Linked DNA regions of Homo sapiens: regions 1, 2, 3 and 5 are each linked to region 4. The links come from fine-mapping of genetic effects on gene expression. A gene starts in region 4. Each other region holds a variant in brackets. All regions are shown on one strand. Distances are from middle to middle.

Evidence for each region. PIP is the estimated chance that this variant, and not a neighbour inherited with it, causes the effect.
Region 1: its variant is fine-mapped to the expression of PODN in whole blood (TOPMed, PIP above 0.99).
Region 2: its variant is fine-mapped to the expression of PODN in whole blood (TOPMed, PIP above 0.99). The same link has a PIP of 0.9 or more in blood mononuclear cells.
Region 3: its variant is fine-mapped to the expression of PODN in whole blood (TOPMed, PIP above 0.99). The same link has a PIP of 0.9 or more in blood mononuclear cells.
Region 5: its variant is fine-mapped to the expression of PODN in whole blood (INTERVAL, PIP above 0.99).

What each region holds. Positions count from the first base shown.
Region 1 is chr1:53,084,889-53,090,764 of GRCh38, reverse strand. It overlaps SLC1A7 (solute carrier family 1 member 7), which reads left to right. Exons shown (of 11, transcript NM_006671.6): 8 at 1-153; 9 at 831-965; 10 at 1,786-1,888; 11 at 2,538-3,582. The coding sequence ends at 2,756. PODN (podocan) reads right to left here. Exons shown (of 11, transcript NM_153703.5): 11 at 5,271-5,876. Among named protein-coding and RNA genes, the nearest start is that of PODN, 26 kb to the right of the region's middle. The variant C/T (reference allele first, on the strand shown) is at 2,132.
Region 2 is chr1:53,130,736-53,134,735 of GRCh38, reverse strand. It overlaps SLC1A7 (solute carrier family 1 member 7), which reads left to right. Exons shown (of 11, transcript NM_006671.6): 2 at 307-386. Among named protein-coding and RNA genes, the nearest start is that of SLC1A7, 9.9 kb to the left of the region's middle. The variant G/A (reference allele first, on the strand shown) is at 2,248.
Region 3 is chr1:53,124,673-53,128,672 of GRCh38, reverse strand. All of the region lies in intron 2 of SLC1A7 (solute carrier family 1 member 7), which reads left to right. Among named protein-coding and RNA genes, the nearest start is that of SLC1A7, 16 kb to the left of the region's middle. RefSeq lists an enhancer at 3,290-4,000. The variant T/C (reference allele first, on the strand shown) is at 2,499.
Region 4 is chr1:53,059,175-53,065,428 of GRCh38, reverse strand. It overlaps PODN (podocan), which reads right to left and starts at 3,216. Exons shown (of 11, transcript NM_153703.5): 1 at 3,121-3,216. RefSeq lists a silencer at 3,051-3,238.
Region 5 is chr1:53,105,838-53,109,837 of GRCh38, reverse strand. All of the region lies in intron 3 of SLC1A7 (solute carrier family 1 member 7), which reads left to right. Among named protein-coding and RNA genes, the nearest start is that of SLC1A7, 35 kb to the left of the region's middle. RefSeq lists enhancers at 3,390-3,889, 3,890-4,000 and a silencer at 3,787-3,994. The variant C/T (reference allele first, on the strand shown) is at 1,669.

The DNA of each region.
Region 1 (5,876 bases), 26 kb before region 4:
CAACCACATCGACCGGCGCATCGCTCGCTTCGTGCTGCCCGTGGGTGCCACCATCAACATGGACGGCACTGCGCTCTACGAGGCTGTGGCCGCCATCTTCATCGCCCAGGTCAACAACTACGAGCTGGACTTTGGCCAGATCATCACCATCAGGTGCACCCTGACACTGCACCTGGGTGGATGGGGCGGGGGCTGGGGGCCTTGGGGATTCCCAGGCTCCCAGACTTGAGGGGTATCTGAAGCGAGCGAGCCTGGGCTCGGAGCACAGCAGGCAGAGGGCCAGGGCTGGGAGCTCCGAGCCTGGAGGACAGCCCGGGAGGGAGGGCATTGCTGGTGGCCACAGGGCGAGCGGAGGCCAGGGACAGGACTCAGGACCTTGGAGAGGCCGCCCGTGTGGCAGGAGCCAACGAAGGGGTGCTGGGATGCGGCTGAGGCTGACGGAGGCCTCACAGCCCAGCCAAGCACACAGGTCTGACCCTGGAGGCCAGGCCCCAGAGGCAGGCAGGCAGAGCCATGTGGTGGTCAGTCAGAGTCCCTGGGCAGCCCCATAGCAATATAGCTTCCTGGAACCCACAGAGGCACAGCTCCAGACACAGGTGTTTGCACAGTTCCCAGGGATTCTCCTGAGGCCAGGAATGGGGGTCCATGGGGCTTCAGGACTGTGAGGAGGGACTTGACCCCGAGAGCTCCCTGGTGTGGCATTCCTACCCACCCCCCGCACCAAATGGCTGTCCCAGAGGCCCTGACACTCAACCTCTTCCTTGGAGCCAGACCCTGACAATGCACCCTGCCCCTCCTGCTGCTCCTCTTCCCCTTCCCACCCCCTGCAGTATCACAGCCACTGCAGCCAGCATTGGGGCAGCTGGCATCCCCCAGGCCGGCCTCGTCACCATGGTCATCGTGCTCACCTCCGTGGGACTGCCCACCGATGACATCACCCTCATCATTGCCGTTGACTGGGCTCTGTGAGTGGACTTTGCCTCTAGCTCTAGCCCTCTGGGAGGGGCTGACTTCAGGGTCAGCAGGGATCAGGGTGAGCGGCTGAGTCCCTTCCCCAGGGTAGAAGGCTGGGGACTGCCCCGCTTGGCACTGTGGGAGTGCCCTACTCATTAGCACAGGCCTGGCTGCATAATTTGTGGGGTCCAGTGTTCAAAAATGAAAATGTGGAACCCAGTCCAAAAACTGTAAAGGCCAGGCATGATGACTCACGCCTATATGTCCCAGAACTTTGAGAGGCCATGGCAGGAGCATTCCTTGAGCCCAGGAATTCCAGAGCCCAGCCTGGGCAACACAGTAAAATCCCCATCTCTACTAAAAATTAGAAAAGAAAAAATTAGCTGGGACTGGTGACATGTGCCTGTAATCCCAGCTATTCAGGTGGCTGAGGCACGAGAATTACCTGAACCTGGGAGATGGAGGTTTCAGTAAGCCGAGATGGCGCCACTGCACTCCAGCCTGAGTGACAGAGCAAGACTCTGTCTCAAAAAACAAACAAACAAACAAACAAAAAACAAACCTATAAAGAATTTCAAGACAGAAACAGCAGAGGATTAAACCAAACCTAACCCTTCTAAGCATGGGGACCTGTGGAACCCACAGCTGCATGCCAAGAAGCTGCTTCAATGATGCCAAAGGGTGGGCTTGGGAGGAGCCAGGAAGCCATCTGGCTGCAGGCTTTGCATGACAGCTGGTCACCGGCCGTGCTGTACTGTGCTGGGTTGAGCACTGCCCTCTTCCAGCTCCCCTTCAAGTGCCCACCACTCACCCCCAACCTTGGCTCACCAGGGACCGTTTCCGCACCATGATTAACGTGCTGGGTGATGCGCTGGCAGCGGGGATCATGGCCCATATATGTCGGAAGGATTTTGCCCGGGACACAGGCACCGAGGTGAGAGCAGTGAGATCCAGAGGCTGCCAGGAGGGTGGAGCCACGCAGGGTGGGCAGGGCACCAGATCTTCCACCAACCAGCTCGGCAGCCTCCAGCCAATCCCTCCCTCCATGCCTCTGGGCCTCGGTCTCCTCATCCGTTACAGAATGACTGATTCCTCTAACATCTATTTATTGAGCACCCGCTGTGGCTGGCGCTGATATAGACACAGGAGGAACAGTAGAACAAGATATGATAAAATT[C/T]CCCGCCCTCGTGTCGGGATGGTCTGTCCAGTTTAGCCAACATGTGAGCATTTGTAGGTCTGTGCAGGCTGTGTGGGCTTCAGGCTCCTTCTACAGGCAAATGGAGAAGGCTGTCCCCACATCATGGGGAAGAAGCTGAGGTCAGGCAGGGGATCCACCAATTCCCCAGATGGACCCTGTGGATTAAGTCCCCTCCTCTACTAAGCCAGCTCCAGTGGGAGGCAGGACGCTTGGGAACAGGAGCCCAGGGAGGCCGTGACCTGCCGAGGTCACACAGCGTGTCTGCAGGAAAATCCATCTTGTGGTTCCTAGCCCTGAGCTCATTCTGCCCCACTGGCCCTCAGTCCTCCCTCGTATCTAACCTTGGTCCCTCCTGCTGCTACAAAGACCTGTTTCCCTTCACCAGAAACTGCTGCCCTGCGAGACCAAGCCAGTGAGCCTCCAGGAGATCGTGGCAGCCCAGCAGAATGGCTGTGTGAAGAGTGTAGCCGAGGCCTCCGAGCTCACCCTGGGCCCCACCTGCCCCCACCACGTCCCCGTTCAAGTGGAGCAGGATGAGGAGCTGCCCGCTGCGAGTCTGAACCACTGCACCATCCAGATCAGTGAGCTGGAGACCAATGTCTGAGCCTGCGGAGCTGCAGGGGCAGGCGAGGCCTCCAGGGGCAGGGTCCTGAGGCAGGAACTCGACTCTCCAACCCTCCTGAGCAGCCGGCAGGGGCCAGGATCACACATTCTTCTCACCCTTGAGAGGCTGGAATTAACCCCGCTTGACGGAAAATGTATCTCAGAGAAGGGAAAGGCTGCATGGGGGAGCCCCATCTAGGGAGTGATGGGCCCGGCATTGCCTGAGGCCCCGCTGTGACAGTTTCCCCGGTGTGAGCCCGGTGAGGGCGGCAGGCAGGGGTTATCCGGCCCCACTTTCTGGATGACAGACTTGAGGCTCTGAGAGCTGAAAACACTTGTCCAAGGTCTCACGTTAAGGTCAAGACACTAACTCAAATCTTTCAAGCCCCGCCTCTCCTCTTGGAGGACAGGGCAGCCTGCAGCTGTGTCCAGGCCCAGGCCCCACCCCATAACAGGTGGCCTCAGCCACACAGTTCTCCCCAAGGGGAGCAGCCCAGGGCCAAGCCCCGCTGCCTTCCCCAGGCCACAGTGCGTCCAGTCTCCTGTCCTGCCACGTGTCTTTTGCAAAGCTCCTTGGATGTGGAGACAGATGTCTTTACTAGAGCTGAAAGGCCCCCTTGACACATCCAGGCCAACCTCCCATGGAATAGGTAGGCAAGCCAGGACTCCGGGAAGGAGGTGCAGCCAGGATGCTCTGGTGGAGCTGCCGATGGGGCCCTGGTGTCAGAACTCCCCAAAGGCCTGTGCGTCCAAGTGGAGTCAGGTTTTCTATTCCTTTCTGTGTTTGCAAATTCAGTGTTAACTAAATAAAGGTATTTTGTTTTTCACTTCTTGTGGGCTTCAACACCTTATGCTAGCCAGCAAATATGATATTAGCTACTGGGCTAATTAATACAGGCGGCCAGAGTGCAGACGGGCCTGTCTGGGCAGCCAGGATATGGGCGGGCCTATGCAGGTGGCCAGAATCTAACAGGCTTGTCCATTTGGCTGGAGTGTAGACAGGTCTGTCTAGGCTGCCAGTGTGTGGACAGGCCTGTATGGGCAGCCAGAGTGCAGAGAAGCCTGTCCTGGTGGCTGCAGTAAGGACAGTCCTATCTGAGCTGTCACATGCAGAAGACAGAGTATAAGCTAGCCTACCCAGGAGCCTGTCTCAATAACCACAGGGCAGCTGGGCATCGTCCAGTGTGGACAGACCTCTCTGCCATGGTCTAGGCTCTGCTCTGCAGGCAGGGCCTTGAGATCAGTCCCCAAAGAAGAAACAGATTTCCTTCCCAGTCTGGCTCCCCGTGGTGAATGCTTTGCTTTAGACAGGGGCGTGCCCAGGGACATTTCCAGATGGTCTCCCTCATTCTCACACCCCAGGCTGCCTCCAGGAGGCCTGCAGGGCACACAGAAGGGCCCTGGCAACACAGCCTGTTCCAGATATGCCTTGGGGAGAAGATACAGCTCTGGGGTCTGGAGGGGCTTGCACCATGATGCCCTTGAAGACACTAAGGCCCAGGGAGGGGACAGGCCTCCCCCAGGTCACTCAGCGTCAAGAGGGCACCTGCTCCCACTGCCCCATTCCTGAACTCCTTCCACCCTCCTCCCAGGGGTGGAGTGTGAGGAGTCTGGGAAGAGCACGACCCCAGGACACCTCCTCCCACTGCAGGGCTGGGGGCTGCAGGCCTCCACGAGAGCATCCTTCCTTCCCTGAGGCCTCCTCACCTGGGAGAGGTCAGATGTCATGCAATCGGTCATCCCACCTTCATGCAGACAAGCTTAGCAGCCCCTTCTAGGTGTCACATCTCTAAGACCCCTTGAGCAATCGAGTCTGTCCCAGCACAAGGCAGGAGTCTGCTCTTTAGTGGACTTGGCAGGAGCATCCTTACACACCTCCAGCAGCAGGGAGGTCACCACTTCCCGAGCATCTCAACCCACAGTGGGGCAGCTCTGCCCATCAGAGGCTCTTCTTAGCTCAGAGCTGGGTACCACCTCCCGGTGGCAGCTCTCCCACTGGGGTGGGAAGCACACTGGGTGCATCTGTTAGCTCTTTCCTGGAAAGGTCTGCGGAGACCTGGGCCCCCAAGTCGGCTCTGCTCCAGCTCCCAGGCCTGCCTCCAGTCCCCTGCTCTCCTCTAGAACCCACTAGTAACACCCTGTCAGTGCAAAGGTGACCCATGACCCTCCAGGTGAGCCCTTAACAGGCCCAAAGCCCATGAGGTCCTTTGCTTGGATGCTCCACCTCTGGGAATGCACAGCAAGCTCACAGGCCGCGTGTGCTGGTTCAGGCCTCACCTACTATTCCCGAGTGGGCCATCTGCACACACCTCAGGCCCCCTCGCCTGAGGCTATGCCCTGTTCTCCCAGGATGCCTGCCTGTGCAGCTACTCTGCGGGCCCCGAGAACTGGACTTTCCACTGATGTCTGCTGTTCTGGCCAGGGCGCTGAGGGGCTTGTATCCTGCCCCCTCCACCCGGCACCAGGCCAGCACCTGGCAGGAAGCAAGCACAGACATAGCCACAGGCTGCAGGGATAGGGATAATGCTTTTATATTAGTTTTTCTATAACAAGAAAAATCAGCTTTGAGATTTTTATCATTTTTTTCCTTAGAAAAGAATAAAAAATAAAGGCACCCGGAACTTCCCCCACAGGCCTGAAGAACAAAGGTGTCTCCTAGGTGCAGCTGGGTCCTTCCTCCCTGGCTCAGCCCAGCCCCATCACCTCTGCTTCACTCCTGCCCCAAGGCCCCAGCAGCACCCAGGGGGCTCTCCCATCCTGCCTCCACTGGGCTTGCCCATTGGAAAAGTGCCTGTGTCCTGCCAGGGCGTGGCAGGGAGGGACTCTTAGCAGAGTGACTGCCCAGCACCTGGAGGAGCAGGGTGGGCCAGGCCAGGCCAGCAGTCCTGAAGGCTCCTGTCCCCATAGGATGGGAAAGGAATAAAAGCCAGCTTTTGTGAGTTCCAGAGGGTGGCAGGCACCTGGCCACAGAGCATGGATACCCTTGTGTCTTCTCCAGGGAACGGACGGACAGATGGACAGGGCAGACGGCGAGCTGCTATGGCTGATTCTGGCTGGGGCAAGAGCTGTCTGTGGCATAGGCTTTGGAGGGCTGTTCGCACATGACTTGTGCATGTGTGTG
Region 2 (4,000 bases), 70 kb before region 4:
GCTGAGAATAAGTAGGGACTACTGTAGTTATTACCCTCATGTTACAGATGAGAAAAATACAAAACTCAGAGTGGTCACAGAAGATGCTTAAGGCCACACAGCTTGTGGGGGATTGGTGGAGGCGGGGTGTTTACCAGGATTGGAACCCAGTTCTGTGGCTCCAAAGCCAGTTCTTTCTCCATGGTCTCTGCTGCCATGTGCTAGACAGGGGAGTCAGATGGGATAGTGCTTCAAAGACTGTGAAGAACGGAACCACTGTGCAGTCTGCATCTCTTGCTATAACCCCAGTTCTTACTGTGTTTTCAGGAAATTAGTTACTTCCAGTTCCCTGGAGAGCTCCTGATGAGGATGCTGAAGATGATGATCCTGCCACTGGTGGTCTCCAGGTGAGAGCGGGGGTTTGACCAGGTGGTCCGGAACCAGGAGGGTAGAGGATGGCTTCTGTTGCTGCCCTGCTCCTGCTGTGGGTGGCTGGAGAGCAACCACAGGCCCTGGGATGAGTGTGACCGTGGGGCCTTTATGGGCAGTGCCGTGGGCTGCCGGCTTCTGAGTCATTCAGTGGCCCCAGTTGTTGGTTCCATCCAGTAGAATTTTTAGTGGATAGAACAGGTGATTTGGAATCAACGGATATGACCCGACTCCAAGATAGCTCAAGGCCAGGGAGTTGAGGGTTGGCTTCCCAGAGGAGGGGCTGTTCATGGTAATGCAGCAAGGCCTGGGGAAAAGAGAACTAACTCTGAGGATACTCCAGTGATCACAGCCTGGCTTGGCTGTGTAACCTTGGACATATTACCTCACCTCTCTACGCCTCAGTTTCCTCATCTGTAAAATGGGAATAACAACACCTACTTCGAAGGGTTGTCATGAAGACTATATGTTGTGTATGCTGAGCACTCAGGAGGTTGGGACTTGGGGACAAGGGCGGGATGGTGCGAGATGAATTTGGACGGTGAGCTCTTGCCCAATCATGAACGACCTTGAACACCAGGCTGAAGAATTCAGACCTTACCCAGTAGGGTGCGGGCCATGGAAATCATGGGAGATCACTTGGTCCCTTTCACTGATGTGCTAGGTGAACTTGAGCAACCCTATCCCTGTCCAGGTCTTGAGTATTCCAGATGTATAATGAGTGGCTGCTCCAGGTGGTGTCTAAGAGCCTTTTGCTCTGAGGCCATGAGAAATCTTCATCTTCCAGGACTCCTCTGCAGAGAGGAAAGAGGATGAGCCTCTGCATGCGTTCTGCCTCCCAGCCTCCCTGCTGCTGAGCAGTGAGCCAGCTCCTTGGACCTCCCCCCTTTGTGAAGTGGAGATAATCCCCAGGCCAAGGGCGCTTTGTATTTTCTGCACAGAGGCCTTTGCAAGCAGCATTTAAATTTCTCAGGACTCAGCCTTCAAGGCTCTGCTGAAATGCTACCTCCCTCAGGAAGCCTTCCCTGACTCCTCAACTCACTCTAGTGACTGTCTCCTCTTTCTGCATCTTTGGAGTCATTCACTGAGCCTGTGAATCTGTCAGGGTCAGCAGTCCTCTGTGTTGCTGAATCTGTACGACACGTCCAGTTCTTCCACACGGCCTCTCCACAGCCATGGGTGCAGCTGATTACTCTTGCCCTCATGAAATGCCCTTCCCTATGGACTCACACTCTTCTAACTTTTTGCCTGCTTTCTGCCCCTCCATCTTGGTCTCTCTCCTTCTACTCAACCTCCAAATGTTCAGCTTCTCCAGCCTTTTCTCATCTAATTTCATAGCTTTAACATACCACCTACAAGCCCAATGCCCCCAGATGGAGATCTCCCCAGACCTCTCCTGTGAGCTCCATACTTCATTAACCAACTGCCTATTTGACATCTCCACTTGGATGTTTCACAAACGTTTCAAGTTTTGTTTTGTTTGAGATAGGATCTTGCCCTGTCGCCCAGGCTAGAGTGCAGTGGCACAATCTCAGCTCACTGCAGCCTCGGCTTCCTGGGTTCAAGTGATCCTCCTACCTCAGCCCCCCAAGTAGCTGGGACCACAGGCACACACCACCACACCTAATTATTTTTTGTATTTTTTGTAGAGGCGGGGTCTCACCATGTTGCCCAGGCTGGTCTCAAACTCCTGAGCTCCAGCAATCCACCTGCCTCAGCCTCCCAAAGTGCGGGAATTATAGGCATGAGCCACCGTGCCCAGCCACACTTCAAGTTTAATGTCACCAACTTGAAGTTCCACCCAGAAAACTGCCTCCTTTTCCTGTTTTCTTCTTGTCT[G/A]CAAATGGCAGCTCCATCACCCAGGTCTTCCATCGGGCCTGTCATTGGCTATCCTCTTTCTCTCAACCCCACAGCCCCATCCACAGTTCCAGTGGATTCTGCCTACTCAGTCGAAGAATGGAGCTTCCTCCCAACCCTACAGGCCCGGGCACTCTCTTCTCACGTCCAGACTCCACCGCCACCTCACTGGTCTCCTCGCCTCACTTCTTGTCCCCGTCCCATCTATTCCACCCAGTGGCCAGAAGGATCTTGAGAAAAGCAGATTGGGCCCTGCCCCTCATTTACCTTCAACAGCTTCCATGACATGTAGAATCAACCTGCAGACCATTAACCTGGTCTAGGAGGCCCTGCATGATCTGCCTCGCCCACCCCACCTCATCCCATGTCACATACTCCAGTCCCACCAGCCTCAAGTTCCCTAAGCAGACCAAGCCCTTACCATCTCAGGGCCTCCACACGTGCTGTTCCTTCCTCTGGAACATGCTTCCCCAACATCTTACATCTCTTCTTCTTCCTCTTTTTTTCCATCTCAACTTGCACATCATCTTCTTAGGAAGGCCCTCCCCACCAACCCCTTCATGCCACCCTGGCTCTCCCTTACTGTACCCTGTTCCCTCCCGGCCACAGCACATATCATATGTTGTCATTCTATATGCATTCACTTGTTAACTGGTTTCTTTATCCACTGGGCTGTAAGCTTTGCAAAGTTAACGAGGCTACTCTGCCTAGATTCAACTCTGTGTTGTCAGCACCTAGCCAAGTGCCAGGCACATAGTAGGTGCTCATTAATACTGGTCAAGTGAATTAATTAATGGATCCTGCAATCATGCATTGTGCTTTCTGGACACTTGGCCCTGTGCTGGGTGCTGCAGACACAGAGATGATGGAGAGACTGTCCTGTGGTGTTCACAGACTGCTGGGGAGACTGACAGGAAAATAGACAATCACAGAACAGCTAAATAAGTGCACTGGTGGAGGAAGCCAGGACCCTTGGCAGGCAGTTCTGTCTGCCCTTTCCTGCTGACTGTCCTAACTGCCTGGGCATTGCCCCTCTCTCAGAACAGAGGCACCTTAGAGGCCATTGTATGGACCCTGGTGTCACACAGCCTGGCCTTGCTATGTATTAGCTGTGTGGCCTTGGACAAGTCACTCAAAACAAAAAAATCCTGTTCAGAAGTCAGAGGCCAGGGTCCTCGACCTGCCTCCACCACAAGCGATCATGTGATCTGAGGTGAGGCCCCCAACCCTGGGCTTCTTTACCCAGCAACGAAGGCCCGTCCAGCTCTCCACCTTCTGGCTCTCAAATGCCTGGTCTCCCTCCACCAGACTCAGTGTTCTCTTGGCTGGAAATGCATGTGATATTAAGTTGAGAAAAGCCAGGACGTGTTCATACATTTCATTTGTTTATTATAGAGTTTGGACTGGTGCAGAGCAACCGTGTCACTAAGAAATGGAACCGCTTTAACATTTTCCTATGAAGGGAAAATTAAACCTTCAGGGGGGAGATATGACGCATTTCTGAGTCCTAAAACCCCTCGTTCCTGAACTCTCCCTCCTTTGGCCTCAAACTGGCCTATTATCCATCCTGGCCAGGAGTCCATCCACACTGTCCCCTGAGCTCTTGCTCCTGGCCAGCCCAGGGCTGGGTGTCCCTGCCTTTGAGGAACAGCCACTCTGGTGTGAGGTTGTTACTCAGGGCAGAGCAAAATCACCAGAGCTGCTTTGAAAAATTCAGATGTCAGGCCTGACCCTG
Region 3 (4,000 bases), 64 kb before region 4:
TACAGACCATGCAGCATGCCCTGCTTCACCTGAGTCGTGCACACCTGCACATCCACAGGGCCTCCGCAGGGGCCCTGGCCAGGTCCTGCCCACTTCTCCATGATGCACTCACCTGGCACCCAGAGCCATTCCTTGCGCCATGACAGTCAGAGCCTCCTTATCTGTCATGAATTCCTATTCTTTTTTGTTTTTAATTGAGACAGGGTCTTACTCTGTCCCTCAGGCTGGAGTGCAGTGGCATGACCACAGCTCACTGTAACTTTCAACTCCAGGGCTCAATCGATCCTCCCGACTTAGCCTCCCAATTAGCTGGGACTACAGGCACACGCCACCATGCCCAGCTAATTTTTTAAATTTTGGGTAGACATGGGGCTCTCACTATGTTGCCAAGGCTGGCCTTGAATTCCTGGGCTCGAGGCATCCTCCTGCCTTGGCCTCTCAAAGTGCTGGGATTACAGGTGTGAGTCACCGCACCCTGCCCAATTCCTATTCTTACTGCCTCTTGCTTTTCTATGCCCTTCACTCCTACAACCAAGCAGCCTTCATCAGCTTCCCATTCACACCAGCATTCCTTGCTTCAAGTAGTGCCTTCAGTTATCTCCTGGTTCTCTGTGTGTGTGTCTGTGTGTATTCGTTATCATTGCCGTGTAACAAATTATCACAAACTTAGTGACATAAACACACTTCATGGTTGCCTCAGTCCCTGGGCCAGCAGTCTGGGCGGGCTTGGCTGAGTCCTCTGCTCAGAGTCTTAGGCTGCAATCCAGGTGTCCGCTGGGCTCTGTTCTCATCCGGAGGCCCAACCAGGGAGAATCCGCCTCCATGCTCCCTCAGGCATGGACAGAAGTGATTCCCCATGGCTGCTGCCTGAGGGCCCAGCATTGACAGCTGTGCAGTGGAGCCACTCAGGTTCTAGAGGCTGCCTGCAGCTCCCCACCCAGCTGTCTCCACAGGCAGCTCACAGCATAGCACTGTAGGTCATCAAGGCCAGCAGGAAGCCCGGTCCTCACCAGTCTTCTGAGTCAAAGTCTTCTACCACATAACCACAGGGAGACATCCCACCACCTTGTTGTGTTCTCATAGAAGTCACAGGCACTGCCACACTGCGGGAGGAGGATATACCAGGGCTTGGGTCATCGGGGTGGCCTGAGGGCCTGTCCACCTCCTTCTCTCTCCTGGAACCTTCCTTCTCTCTTCCTCTGTCCCCAGAGCAGCTGGATGTCTTTCAGAAGTCACTTCTGCTCACCTCTCTCCCTGGAGCCGGCTTGGGTTGAGTGGAGCCACTGCTCAGCTTCTGTCCAAGTAGTTCATCAAGAACTTTCTTCTGAATAAGGACTGCTCCCTTACTGTAAAAATAATTCTGAAGAATATAACTCTCCCCCTTTCATCTGATTTCTCACTGCCCCATACAGGGCCTGCTACTGCCTGTGCCTGATCAATACATTTTCAATGAATAAGAAGCAGCAGAGGGCAGCGGCAGCAGAGTTCAGGGAAAGTCTCACCATCAGCATTTGTATGGGCCCTGGAGGACAGTTAGGAGCTGAACTTTAAAGATGTTTTCATATTTTAAAAAATTAGATAAAGCCCTGGCAACATAGTGAGACCCCATCTCTACAAAAAAAAAAAAAAAAAAACTTTTAAAATTAGCCAGGCATGATGGTGGGCACCTGTAGTCCTGGCTACTTGGGAGGCTGAGGTGGGAGGATCGCTTGAGCCCAGAAGGTTGAGCCTGCAGTGAGCCATGTTCATGCCATTGCACTCCAGCCTGGGCAACAAAGCAAGACCTTATCTCATAAAAAAAAAAAATTAGATAAGCAAATTACAAACATTTTGGATAACAGAGAAGAAACCATCCTCTCACTCCACATTGCTAATTCTGCCACTGTGATTTCTTCTCTACAAGGTTTGTTCTTATTCTTACTGGTGAATTCACCAGATGTGAGGTGAGGTCCTTGGCTGATGGGATCAGAAGCCCAACTGTCTGGGCCCCAGAGCTGGTTGGGCCTGTCCCCCGATGCTAGCAAGGGGCAATCAAATATGCCACATACTGATTTATTCATTCCCAGAGATCAAGACACTTGCCAGCAAGGACAGTCATATGCAGGCTCTGGCCAGAGCCTCTCTGTGGGCTTACCATGCAGGGAACCCACTGGTGAAATCTGCTTGCTGGTGGGTACATTTAGTTATTTAACTGTATAACCCGGCGTAACTCCAGGTTTGCGGTTTTCAGTTTATTTCAGCCCTCCCACCACCCCCGCCTTATAGTGGAGTCCCATCATATGTGCATTTAACTTAAGTGAATTCAATTACATGTGCTCTGAAAAAGGGAGAAAATCATTTAAATGAGACAGGAGACTCCTCCTTCCAAGGGCTCTTCCCCAGGTGAGGGCCACGAGAGAGGAGGGCCTGAATTGCCTCCACCAGCCGCTGTGCCCAGGCACCTCCTGAACAGTGAGCACCTCCCTGAAGCCAGAGAGTTTCTAGGGCCTGCAGAGGGG[T/C]GGGTGTTTTAGATCACGGCCTCTGAGTGTATGCTGATGCTCTCATCTGGTGTTTGCTTAAAGAAACAGCAACCCACTCCAAGGCTGGAAGGGAAACTGTCTTGAATGAACTTACACAAAACTATACCTCCTGGACTCTATGGGCAACTTAAGAGATTTTCAAAGGCAAAATTAATTACACTTTGTTTTTGCTTTACTGACTTGAAACTGAATACACTGAATATGGTCCTACTCCCCTGTACTAGCAGGAAGCCCAGTGTGTCCCTCTGGAGGCCTCCACCCCGTGGCCACAGTCAGCTTATTTCATTCAGTGGAAGCTTCTGGTGTAAACAGAGCTGGAACATGGGGTCCTGCCACCAGCCCTGCTGCTCTGGTTCCCTCCACGGGGTGGCCCTGTGGAACGCAGGTCCCGCACGCTCTGGTGGAAGTCTGCACACTGCCCCTTGCAGGTGCACAACGCTGCTCAGGCCACAGGGATGCCTCCAGACCCCTAGGTCCCCCCGAAGTGCTCAATAATTGTTCCTAAAGCAGCCTCAGTCATGTCCTGAGATCAGCTCCCCGGGAGTTGAGCCCCAATTCCCTTTTCCCTCCTACTGGGTTCATTTTGGAGGCCTTGAATGCCAGGCCATCTCGGCTGGGGGACTCTAGCGTACCCTGGTGCTAACTTCAAATCACAGGGAACTGGGGCTCAGGTCTTAGTCTTTTTCCTCTCAGAAGGCCCTGATCCTCTGGTGCAAATGGGCACAGTTTTCCATAACTCTGCAGATCTCAAGTTCTCAAGGAGGAGGCATTCATCAAGCCACAACAGCTCCTCCCTTCCCCTGACAGTGCTGCCTTCTCATCCGACATTTGCTGCTCAAAAGATTCTTTGCAAAATAAAATTGCCTGCAGGGGAACTTGCTCTGTCCACCCAGGAACAGAGACGCCTTGGACAAAAATTAGAAAATTCTGCCTCACATTACATTAGTATAGGAACGAATCATCTGGACGGGACCTGCATTGGGGCCCCCCTCCCATGGTTTTGCCCTCCTCAGCCGTCTTCCGTGTGCTGCCACAGTTCACTAACGCCATGCCAATTATATCTTTATTTAGAAAAGTCAAGCCTTCAGGGCCTGGGAGCCTTACTTTCCCATTCTTCCCCGAGCAGGCCACTTGTCACTACCCCAATCCTTTTTGCTTTCAACTTACAGTATAACCCAAAAAGTATCTTCCACAAAAATAAATCTGTAGCCTGCTTGCTTTGGTTTTCCCCCAATGTGATGTCATAAGAATTTCCACGCTGCACCTTCACCTTGGTGATCCTGTTTTACTCACCCACTCGGGAGGCACAGAGTTTGCAAAGTCTTTTGCCTGTCACAAGGCACTTGGGAGGCTGCTAGACTCTTGAGGGAGCTGCCCTGCCTCGGGACTGTGGTCTCACCTCGAGTTCACCCTCTTAGCCTCAGCCATAAAATAGGCACAATGCTGTCTGCTAATTTACAAAGCAGGTCCCGGCAGGTGCT
Region 4 (6,254 bases):
GGTTTGCCGTGTGACCTTGGCCATACCACTGACCCATCTGAGTCTAAATTTTCCAACTTTCTTTTTTTTTTTTGAGACAGGGTCTCCCTCTGTTACCCAGGCTGGACTGCAGTAGCACAATCATGGCTCACTGCAGCCTTGGGCTCCTGGGCTCAGGTGATCCTCCCACCTCAGCCTCCCGAGTAGCTGAAACTACAGGCATGTGCCTCCACACCTGGCATCTGGCTAATTTTTTATTTTTAGAAATGGGGTCTCACTATGTTGCCCAGGCTGTTCTTGAACTTCTGGCCTTCTGCCTCGGCCTCCCAAAGTGCTGGGATTACAGGCATGAGCCACTGTACCCAGCCTTGCTCTTCTAAGAATGGAGCAAGATAAGCCCCCCAAGGCCCCTTCTGTGTACCCAGCCATGTGGGAGGTGTGTGGGGAAGAACAGGGGAGCTCCCTGGTCTCCAGGAGTTTCAAGTCCACCTGGTGAGGAACATCTCAAACCCCTGGACAGCGGGGAAGCTCAGCCAGCAGTGAGTGTTTCTCATATGGAGAGCTTTAGAGACAGAAGGGCATGGGTTCCAATTCTGACTGCTGTGTAAGCCTGGATGAGCCACTTTACTGCTCCGAGCCTCTGTTAACTAGTCTAAGAAATGGAGTTGGGAGCTACTTGTGAGAATTAAATGAAATAGCAGTCTCAGCCTGTCACCGCTGGCATCAAATAGGTGTGACATACCAGGGGTTACTGTTACTGAGAAAGTAAGTGGGACCCACTGTCTCCCCTGACCACTACCAGGGAACCAAACCTCAAGGCCCAAAGTGTGAGGTTAAGGTAGGACTAGAAGAAGGAAGGGAAAGGGAGCCCCAAATCAAGAGGCGGATCCTCAGCCCTCAGCACTACCTTCCTTCTCCACTCAAAGTCAGTACAAATCAACTGACCACCTGCTCTGTGCTGGGCCCCAAACAGCTGCATCTTATTGACTCTAATAGAAATCCTGGGACTACATGTTCGTCTTTCTATTCTGCAGATTTGGAGCTCAAGCACAAAGGGCTGGCATTGCTGCCCATCCCTAGAAAGCTCCTGCTGAAATGCCCCTGCTCAGGGAAGCCTCTCCTGCCCCCTTGGCTGGGTTAGGGTGTTTCTGGGTGCTTCCACAGCAACCTTGGCTGGCTTTATCCTTCAAGTCTCAGCTGGGCCTCCCCTGTCTCCCCAAGCATGGAGTGGGGGTGCTGGGGAAATGTTTGCTGAATGAACGACTTTGTGAAAGGCAGAGTTGGAAAAGATCTAAAGATCTGCAGTATGATCTGCTCTGACTCCCCCAGTTTGCAAATTAGTGTGTTAAAGCCAAGGCCAAGAGTAAAATGTGGGTCTTCTGACTCCTGCCCAGAGCCTTGAGTTGGCCTTGAAGACTGAGCGGGAGTTCTCCAAGTGGACGGAGTGGGAGAAACAGCCCTCCAGGCAGAGGTAGAGTGTGATCAAAAGGTAGGGGTGGGGCTAGAGGAGAGGGACGTGTGTTTAAGGAAGGGTCAACAGGGCGGGAGGCCTGGGTGGCCAAGGGCCTCCACCGCCATGCTAGTGTTGGTGATAGGGACTCATTAAGGGTTCCAAGCAGGACACGGCCAGCACTCGCATGTATGACTACACCAAGCCTAAAAGTGCCACCATTAGTAATCCCCTATCCTAGACTCAGACAGAAGGGATAAAGTGTGCTCCCACAGATGACATGAAAACAGTCGTGTGACTCTGACATTTCTTAACTTGCACTCTAGGCTAGAGTAGACTGGGTCTTGGGCCCTAAGAGTGGACATGAGGGAGCAGAACCCCCAGAGCAGTCCCCCCTGGTCTTTCCCAGGGCAGTCCACGGGCTCTTCTGAGTGACCTACCTCGGAATGCTGTGCGCCTGCAGATCAGCCGGCCTCCTTGCTCACCATGAGCCCTCCTGCCTCGCCGCTGCCTTCCCAGTGTGGAAGGTTTCTATATAAAGGAGGGATAGGGGACGGGACCACCCAGGGGCTCTCCCGGTTCACACCAGTGGCGCCTCGTGGAGCAGGGCAGACCACAGCTTCCCCTTCCCTGGCCAGCCGGTAATCGAAGGGCAGACAGGTCAGTAATTCACTCCAAGCGCTGGGTGAGCATCCTCCGCGCCTCCCGGACCAGCTCAGTCAGTGCCGCGCGCACCGGGGCCGGGGTGCTCGCCCCTTGCTGCCGCGCCTGCTCCTCTCCAAAAGGCTGCGGCTGCCTCTCCTAGCCCCAGCCCCCGAGGCTGCCAGGAGCCTCGCAGCCCCGCCACCACCTCCTCTTCCACCTGACGGAGCGTCAGGTATTCCAACGCCAAGATCTCGTCCCCCGCCCCAGGCCGGGCTGTGGCTCGGGGACCTGGAACCTGGGGCTTCTGCCTCATTCGCAGGAAGGCGCGGATCTCGCTCCTCGCGCTTCGCGGACCCCCACCCCTTCCTCCCTCCAGCTGTCCCGGCTGGGAAGCAGCCGCGTAGACAGATAGACGGACTCCAGACCGCCAGCTGAGACCTTTAGCTCAACTAGTGGTTGGCACTAAGCTGGGGCGGCACAGTGGCCGGGGAAGCCGAGCCCCGGAGGGGACCCACCCGGCGTCCGACGCGCCCTGGGGCCAGACCTCTGCCCCTCTCTGGGCCTCAGTTTCTCTATCTATAAAGAGGTGGAGGTTGGAGTCGCTAGGGGGCCTGATGAGTTGACGTGGAAAGACGCGGGGATACTTCGGGCCCAGGCTCTCATGACAGGGGTCCCCGCCCCTACGCAGTTCCACCTGCCCCCCACATTCCCTGTCGCCCGCCGGCGTCCTCCCACTCCAGCCCCCGCCCCCAACCGCCCTCAGATTCTTTCCAGATGTGCGCAGCGGGAGGGGCCTGGGGACGGGGACCAGCCTCTGCTCAGAGAGGAGAAGGCCCCTGCCTGGGTCCTGACTGCGCAGGGGTCGCACTCCAGAGGAGGAGATCTCCGGCCGTGCCCTGGGTGCAGGGTCCTACAGAGGGGGTGAGATGCGGCGGGCCCGCCCCAGGCAGCTGCTGGAGCCATCCGGAGAGGCGGGGACGTCTGAGTGCGCTGCCCGGGCTCAGCCCCCGGCCCCTCGGCCCACCCCGGCTGCCAGCGCCCTGTACCTGCTGCGCCCCGGCGCCGAGCGGCGCCCCACAGGCCGAACGCGCTCCCCCAGTCTCAGCTGCGCTCCGCGGGCTCGGGCTCCTTCCATTCAAGTCAAGCTGGGCGCTCTCCGCGACGCAAGTTTTGTTGTGGGTTTTCTCCTCCCCGCCTCTCTCCCGCCCCCTTCCCCCACTCCCCACCCGCCCCGGGAGCATCTGCTGGACGCCGGCCTCCTTCGGACACAGGCGTAGGGTCCCCCCAGGCGCGGGCAGGAGAAAGCCTGCCCCTCCCCGCTCGGGACTTGGCCGGTTCCCACTTCCCGGGGAGGCAGAGCCGCCGCACCGACCCCTCTCAGCCCCGGCCGCCGCACCACGCCCCCCGAACCCCCACCCGGGAGACCGGGAAGGCGGGCTGTCTGGTCCGCGACGCTTCCTAGTTCCCAGCCTTCCGCACTGGAACTGGACCCCCTTTAGGCCCCGACACCTGAAAGGAGGGCTGGGGAGAGGGGTCCTTCGACCCAGTGCCTCTGAGCTGTATCTTCCTCATTACAGAGGATGTTGCAACCGCTCCAGGCACGAGTACCTTTCCGTTCACTCTCCCACCCTGGGGTCCTGGGCCGTGGCTAATGGGGCCGCCAGCCAAGACCCTGCTGGGCCTCTTCCCGGAAAAGTTCCCCACGCTCCACCCCACCCTCCACTCCCATCCCTGTTGGCCCTGGGCCCACAGCCTGGTGAGCCTTGAAGAATGGTAAATTGGGCCGGAGTCGGGGACATGCAGATCCCAGTCACAGAGAAACAGGGCGGGTGAACAGTGAGACCTCACACCACCATATTGCTCCCAGGAACTGAAAATGTTTCCAAGTAAAGGAGTATTAACTACTACCAGCTGAAGCAACACTGTTTGGCGCCAGGGGCTTCGGCGGTGGAACAGGCAATGCGGCTGGGCTTAGGTGGTACTTGGCACCTCCACTGTGTAGCAAGCCTCCTCCCCTTACCTGCTCTGGCCTGTGGGCAGGGCATCCACAGCTGCCTCACCTGGCTGTCCTCCCACTGAAGAGGGAGAAGGATGCATAAGTCACACGTGGGACCCCTTGCTCAACCTTAACCTGAATGAATGAATGAATGAATGGCCCCTGTAAAGCAGCTCCAGACTTTTCACTGGCTGCCGCCCCCGTGAGGTTATACCATATGCATTATGCTCTGCTTCACAACTCCGCAAAGGAAGAACTGCTGCTGCCCCACTTTATAGAAAAGAGATGGCCTCAGAAAGGATACTTGACTGAGTAAAATGCCCATTCACTGGCAGAGCTGGGGTTTTGACCCCAGGTTTACCCTTCTCCACAGCCCAAGTTCTTCCCATGATGGAAACAGGCAGGTAACTTGAGCAGGCAAATGTAGAGTCTAGATTTGAACCCAGGACTGTCTGTTTCCATTACACCAACAACCCAAGAACTTAGCAAGAATGGGGAGGGAAAATATTTTGCCTTCTTTGGCCTCAAATTCCAGTCCTTTTGGAGCTCAAACTCACAAGAGTTGGTGTGATTCACAGCATTGGACCTGGACCAACAGAGATGCATCTCGTGTCTTCTCCTGAACATTGAGCCTAGATTCAAGTAGAGCTAAAAGGACAGGATTCTACTAGCTTGAATACTCATGGACTAAAAATCTTTTAGGACAATGAGAGCCAGCACATATTGAGTGCCTAATAAATGACAGGCACCATCCTAAATCCTTAAAATATCTTAATCATCCTAGCCCTGTGGGGAAGATATTCTCTATACTTATAACTGCTAAGGCCAAGGTGTTTCAGGGGCCCGCTACACGGCACACCACACACCCAGTACCCACCACCTCCCAGAGAAATAGGCTTTTCTATGGAATGCTGAGCAAATGCCCATGTGTGCTTTGTGGTTGGCTGCTACTATAGATACAAGCTGCAGGAGGAATCACTTTGAGTGTCTCTGGTGGAAAAATGGAGGCAACCTTGGTGCTCTAGAAGCAAATCCTCTTTCAGAAGGATTGTAAAGGCAGAGTTTGAAATTGAGGTTTCCTGAATCTACTTGTGCTGCTTCAATTCCTTCATGCTGCCCCTCAATTTCAGCTCCTGTTTGATATTACTGAAGTACATAGTGTCAAGTACAAGCTTTAAGCTTGGAGCTGGGTTCAAATCCTAGCTAGGTTCAAATGAATATAAAAATAGTACCTACACTTCACAGTATGTCTAAATTGGAGAATGCAAGTACAGAACTTTACATAGTACCTGTCACATGGTAAGTGCTCAGTAAATGGTAGCTATTACTGCAAAACTATCACCCAGACCTGACCAAATAGCCAGGAAACATTATTAAAATAGAAATGACAAGTGGCAAGAATTAAACAGTAACCTCTGTACTGCCCAGGGAAAGTGCCTTCTAATTCAAAACAATAAGAAACAAGAACACTCCAAAGAGGAGGGAGGAAAGACATACATTGATACGGTAGAGAGAGCTAGGAGTAAAGAACAAGAAGGCTCTCAGTGGGGTTTGATGATGAGAAACAGGAGATGAGGAACAATGAGCTCTTGTTATGCCTCATCATCAAAGAAGAAAATAATTCCTCCTACTTTGAGCTGAGGGCTGAGATCTTATTAAGCAGTAGAGTCCCAAATAGCTATGGCAGCAGCTTGATTTTCTGGACATTTAAGGAATCAAATCACATGGTGGTGTTTGGGGTATATGAATTCCATCTGAAGGACCTTGATGAAGGCAAGACTCTCCAGGGAACAAGAAGAGAATAATGAAAAATCTTCAGTCCAAGTCAAGTACACAAGGAGTCTCCTGGGCTGCTATAACATCTCATACAGACTCTTTATTATTGGAACTTTCTTGCTGTTTTTCCTCTTTCTCCCACTGGATTGTGAGTCCTCCAGGGCAAGAATCTCATGTTCTGCAAGCTCTCCTCTCTCACCCTAAAATACCACTGTGATAGGCAGAATACCCCCCAACCCCGCCCCAAAGATATCCACACCTTAATCCCTAAAACCTTTGGATATGTTACATGATGAAAGTGACTTTGCAGATGTAACTAAGGTTACGGACTTCAAAATAGGGAGCATATTCTGGATTACCCTGGTGGGCCTAATCACATGAGCCCTAAAAAACAGAGAACTTTCTCTA
Region 5 (4,000 bases), 46 kb before region 4:
CCTCACGCCCCCACCCCAGGGCTGCCCACCATCTTAGGACAGACGGACAAGTGGGTGCACTGACAGCCACTCCTGATGCTCTGAGAGGCTGTGAAGGAGATGGGGACACTGGCAGTGAGGGACCAGGGGCCTCCTGACCCTTGCCCTGGCCCAGAACAGGTGCCTACCAGGTGCTGAAGACTGAACAAAAACACTGATGACCAGGAAGAGAACTGAGAACCAGGGCAAGTGGGACAAATGGAAAGTGGGAGCCCACTGCGTGGGGACATAAGGCACACCACAGGGGCAAAGATCTGCATCCTTGTCTCAAAGATGACTCCAGAGGAACACAACAGGCCATGTCCCTGGATGACCCTCCAAGACAGGAATTCATTTTCCAGGGCTCCGGGGGGCCGCTCCAGAAGGCTGGCGCCTGCTCACAGTGCAGCACGCAAAACAGAAACCCAAGCAGAGCACTAATCAGGTCTGGCCCCTTCTCTTTTTTTTCGAATCTTATTAAAACACCACAGAGATTAAGTAATGACTGGGCTCTATTTATAGCTCCCAACTACCCTCTCAGGGATTGGAGGAAGCTTCCAGGAGCTGTGCTTGGGAAGGAACAATTCCCACCTTTAGGGCTTGGTTTGGGGACATGTTATTAGGGGTGGGTTTGGAAGCATCTCGGTGAGAATTTGCAAGTAGCAGGTGAAGAGGGGAGCTGAGAGGTGGACTCTGGCTCTGCCTAGAAAACGTGCAGGGAGGCACAGGGCAGAGTGTGTGGGTATTTGATAGGCATGGCTATTAACGTCCCCAGGCACGTTCTGTGTTTTATGTAGCTGCCACCAGGAGCACGGACCTCATGGGACAAGCAGAAAAGTCTTCCCGTGAAGGCTCAAAGCCAAAAGAAAATGTACATTTCCCCATTTAATAATCAAAGGTATAATTCTTGATTAAAATCTGCAGGATAAATTCATTGGTTATTAGTATGAGCACACACGAGTCAGGACTTGCTTTTGGCTGCCAGATCAGCAGAGGCTTAAGTAAGGTAAGGTTTGCATTTGTTCCTGAAGAACAGTCCAGAAGTGGGAGGTGGGCAGCTGGCAGTCACCAGGGTCCCAGGCCCTGCCCTCCTGTGTGCCGTGCCATGCTTAGCACCTGGCTTTCATCTGAGTCTCATGGTCCATGAAGGTTGCTCAAGCTCTAGCTATTATCCCCATGTTCCAGGCAGAAAGAAGAAAGTTGGAGGAACGGACCAAAGGGTCCTGGCTGAATGGGCACCTCCTTAAGAGTTTTCCAGGAATCACCACCCAACGACTTCCACTCACCTCTCGATGGCCACCCCATTAGCAAGAGAATCAGAGCTTGATGGCAGGTCCCATTTGGTCCCCACAACATAATAGGACTTCTGTTAAGGAAGGACGGGAGAATGGAGACTGCATAGGCAACTAGCTGTCCCTGCCAAGGCCCACATTTAAAATGATTGTAATTGTAAAGGAAGTTGTAAAGAAATGTCTATATAGGTATAAGTTCCATTTGGCTTCTTACGAGCTTCCAAATGTTCTCCGTGTGTGTAAACTGAGTCTTGAAAGAGGGGAAGAGGGTTACCGAGGACAAGAGTGAGTGGGAGGCGACCCAGGTGGAGGCAGTGTGAGTGTGGGGCGGCAGGTTGGAGGAAGAGCAGGCATGCAA[C/T]GGAAGCCTCTTACCAGATGCTCACCTCAGAGTTGGCATTTCTCACAAGACACACTCCTAGAAGGGGACTGTGAAGACAAAGATACAAATGCTTTTAGAGAAAGGTTGCTGCCAGGACCATGTGAGGGTGCCCATCTCACCAAACCTCCCACATTGTGCACTGTCATTTGAAAAATACTTTGTCAGTTTGACAGGTGGAAATATCTTGAATTTGTTGATGAAACTAAACATTTTAAAAAGCATTTTTGGCCACTGACTTTTCTTCTTTTGTAACACGAATTGCCTGGTAGTATCTTTCCATCGTTTTCCTGTCGGGTTTTTGTGGTCTATTGGTTTACGCAGCAAATATTTACTGAGTGCTTGGTATGTGCCGGGAACTCTTCCCGGGGCTGGAGACACAACAGTGAACAAACACAGAGCTTCCGCCCTCCAGGGAGCTGATATTCTGATGAGAGGAGATAGTGAAGGTAGAAACCAGGCCAAGATTTGTAAAAGCTCTTAGTAGATTTAGGATGGTAGTGCTTGGTCACGCAGTCTCTCCAGCTCGTCACTTGCTTTGTGGTTTTATTTGTATTGCAATCTGTCTTAGCTTCTCAAGCATTCAGCTTTCCATTTTAGCATAGTTTTAGGTTTACGGAAAAGTTGTAGACAGTACAGAGAGATCCCACACACCCTTCACCTGGCCTCCCCTGATGTTAGCGGTTTACATAACTAGGGTACGTTAGTCAAAACTGAGAAATTAAATTGGTACAACACTATTAACTAAGTTACGGATCTCGTTTGGATTCCATCAGTTTTTCCACGAATGTCCTTTTTCTCTGTTGCAGGATCCAATCCAGGATGCTATGTTGCGCTTAGGGATTTCTTTATTTTCATGTAGTAAAATCTATTGATTTATTGCTCATTTTGTTCTTAGAGAGTCATTTCCTATACTGAGACATGATAAGATCTCAACCTATATTTCTTCTAGCTTTTTATGGTTTCTTTGCCTTTTTTTTTTTTTTTTTTTTTTTTTTAGTCAGAGTCTCACTCTGTCCCCAGGCTGGAGTGCAGTGGTGCGATCTCAGCTCCCTGCAACCTCCGCCTCCCGGGTTCAAGCAATTCTGCAGCCTCAGCCTCCTGAGTAGCTGGGACTACAGGCGAGCACCACCACACTCAGCTAATTTTTGTATTTTTTAGTAGAGACGGGGTTTCGCCATGTTGGCCAGGCTGGTCTCAAACTCCTGACCTCAGGTGATGTGCCCACCTTGGCCTCCCAAAGTGCTGGGATTACAGGCATGAACTACTGTGCCCAGCTGGTTTCATTTTTCAAAGACTTATTTATTTCTTTAAACCTTTTGGAATTTATTTTGGTGTAAGCATCTAACATCTATTTTTTCCAAACCGTTGGTCAGCTGCACAGCATTCTATAATGAATCCTTCGTTTCCTCACTGATTTGTGAAACAACTTTTATCAAGTACGAAACACTTAGAGGTGCTAGTTTCTGTTTCTAGGCTACAGCTTACATGGACTTTTCCATCGACTGCTGTGTCAGTATCACAGTTTGACAGTTACTTTTTTTTTTTTTTTGAGACGGTGTCTTGCTCTGCCGCCCAGGCTGGGGTGCAGTGGCGCGATCTCGGCTCACTGCAAGCTCCGCCGGGTTCACGCCATTCTCCTGCCTCAGCCTCCTGAGTAGCTGGGACTACAGGCACCCGCCACCGTGCCCAGCTAATTTTTTGTATTTTTAGTAGAGACGGGGTTTCACCGTGGACTCGATCTCCGACCTCGTGATCCGCCCGCCTTGGCCTCCCAAAGTGCTGGGATTACAGGCGTGAGCCACCGTTTTTTATCTAGTAGGAAAGACTCCTCCACCTTTAGCTTTATAATAAAATATGTTACTAAGAATAATGAGCCCACCTATGTGCGAGGTCCCGTGTTAGGCCCCACAGATAGGACATGAACAACCAAGTCCCACCTGCAAGGCGGCCACTATATGGGGGAGGCAGACAGGTGAGCCAGTGACCGCACGGTGGTGTGGCGGAGCAGCAGCGACCTACACACAGAAGGGCCGCAGGGTCTCGTGGGGCAGTCAGGGAGGGCTGGACAGAGGAAGAGGTGCTTGATCTGTGGTAGATTTGAGTAGTTCACCAGACCAAGAGGCAGGCAGGGCATTCCGGGCAGAGGGAACAGTGTAGACAAATGCCTGGCTCTGGAAAGTATGTGGCACAGTCTGGGGGCGGCAGGTGCTGGCGCTGTGGAGTGTCCATGATGTAGTGGGTGAGACTGCAGAGGAGGCTGGCCTGAGGAAGGCCCGACCACCAAAGGAGATGTCCAGATGACCCCAAGGCC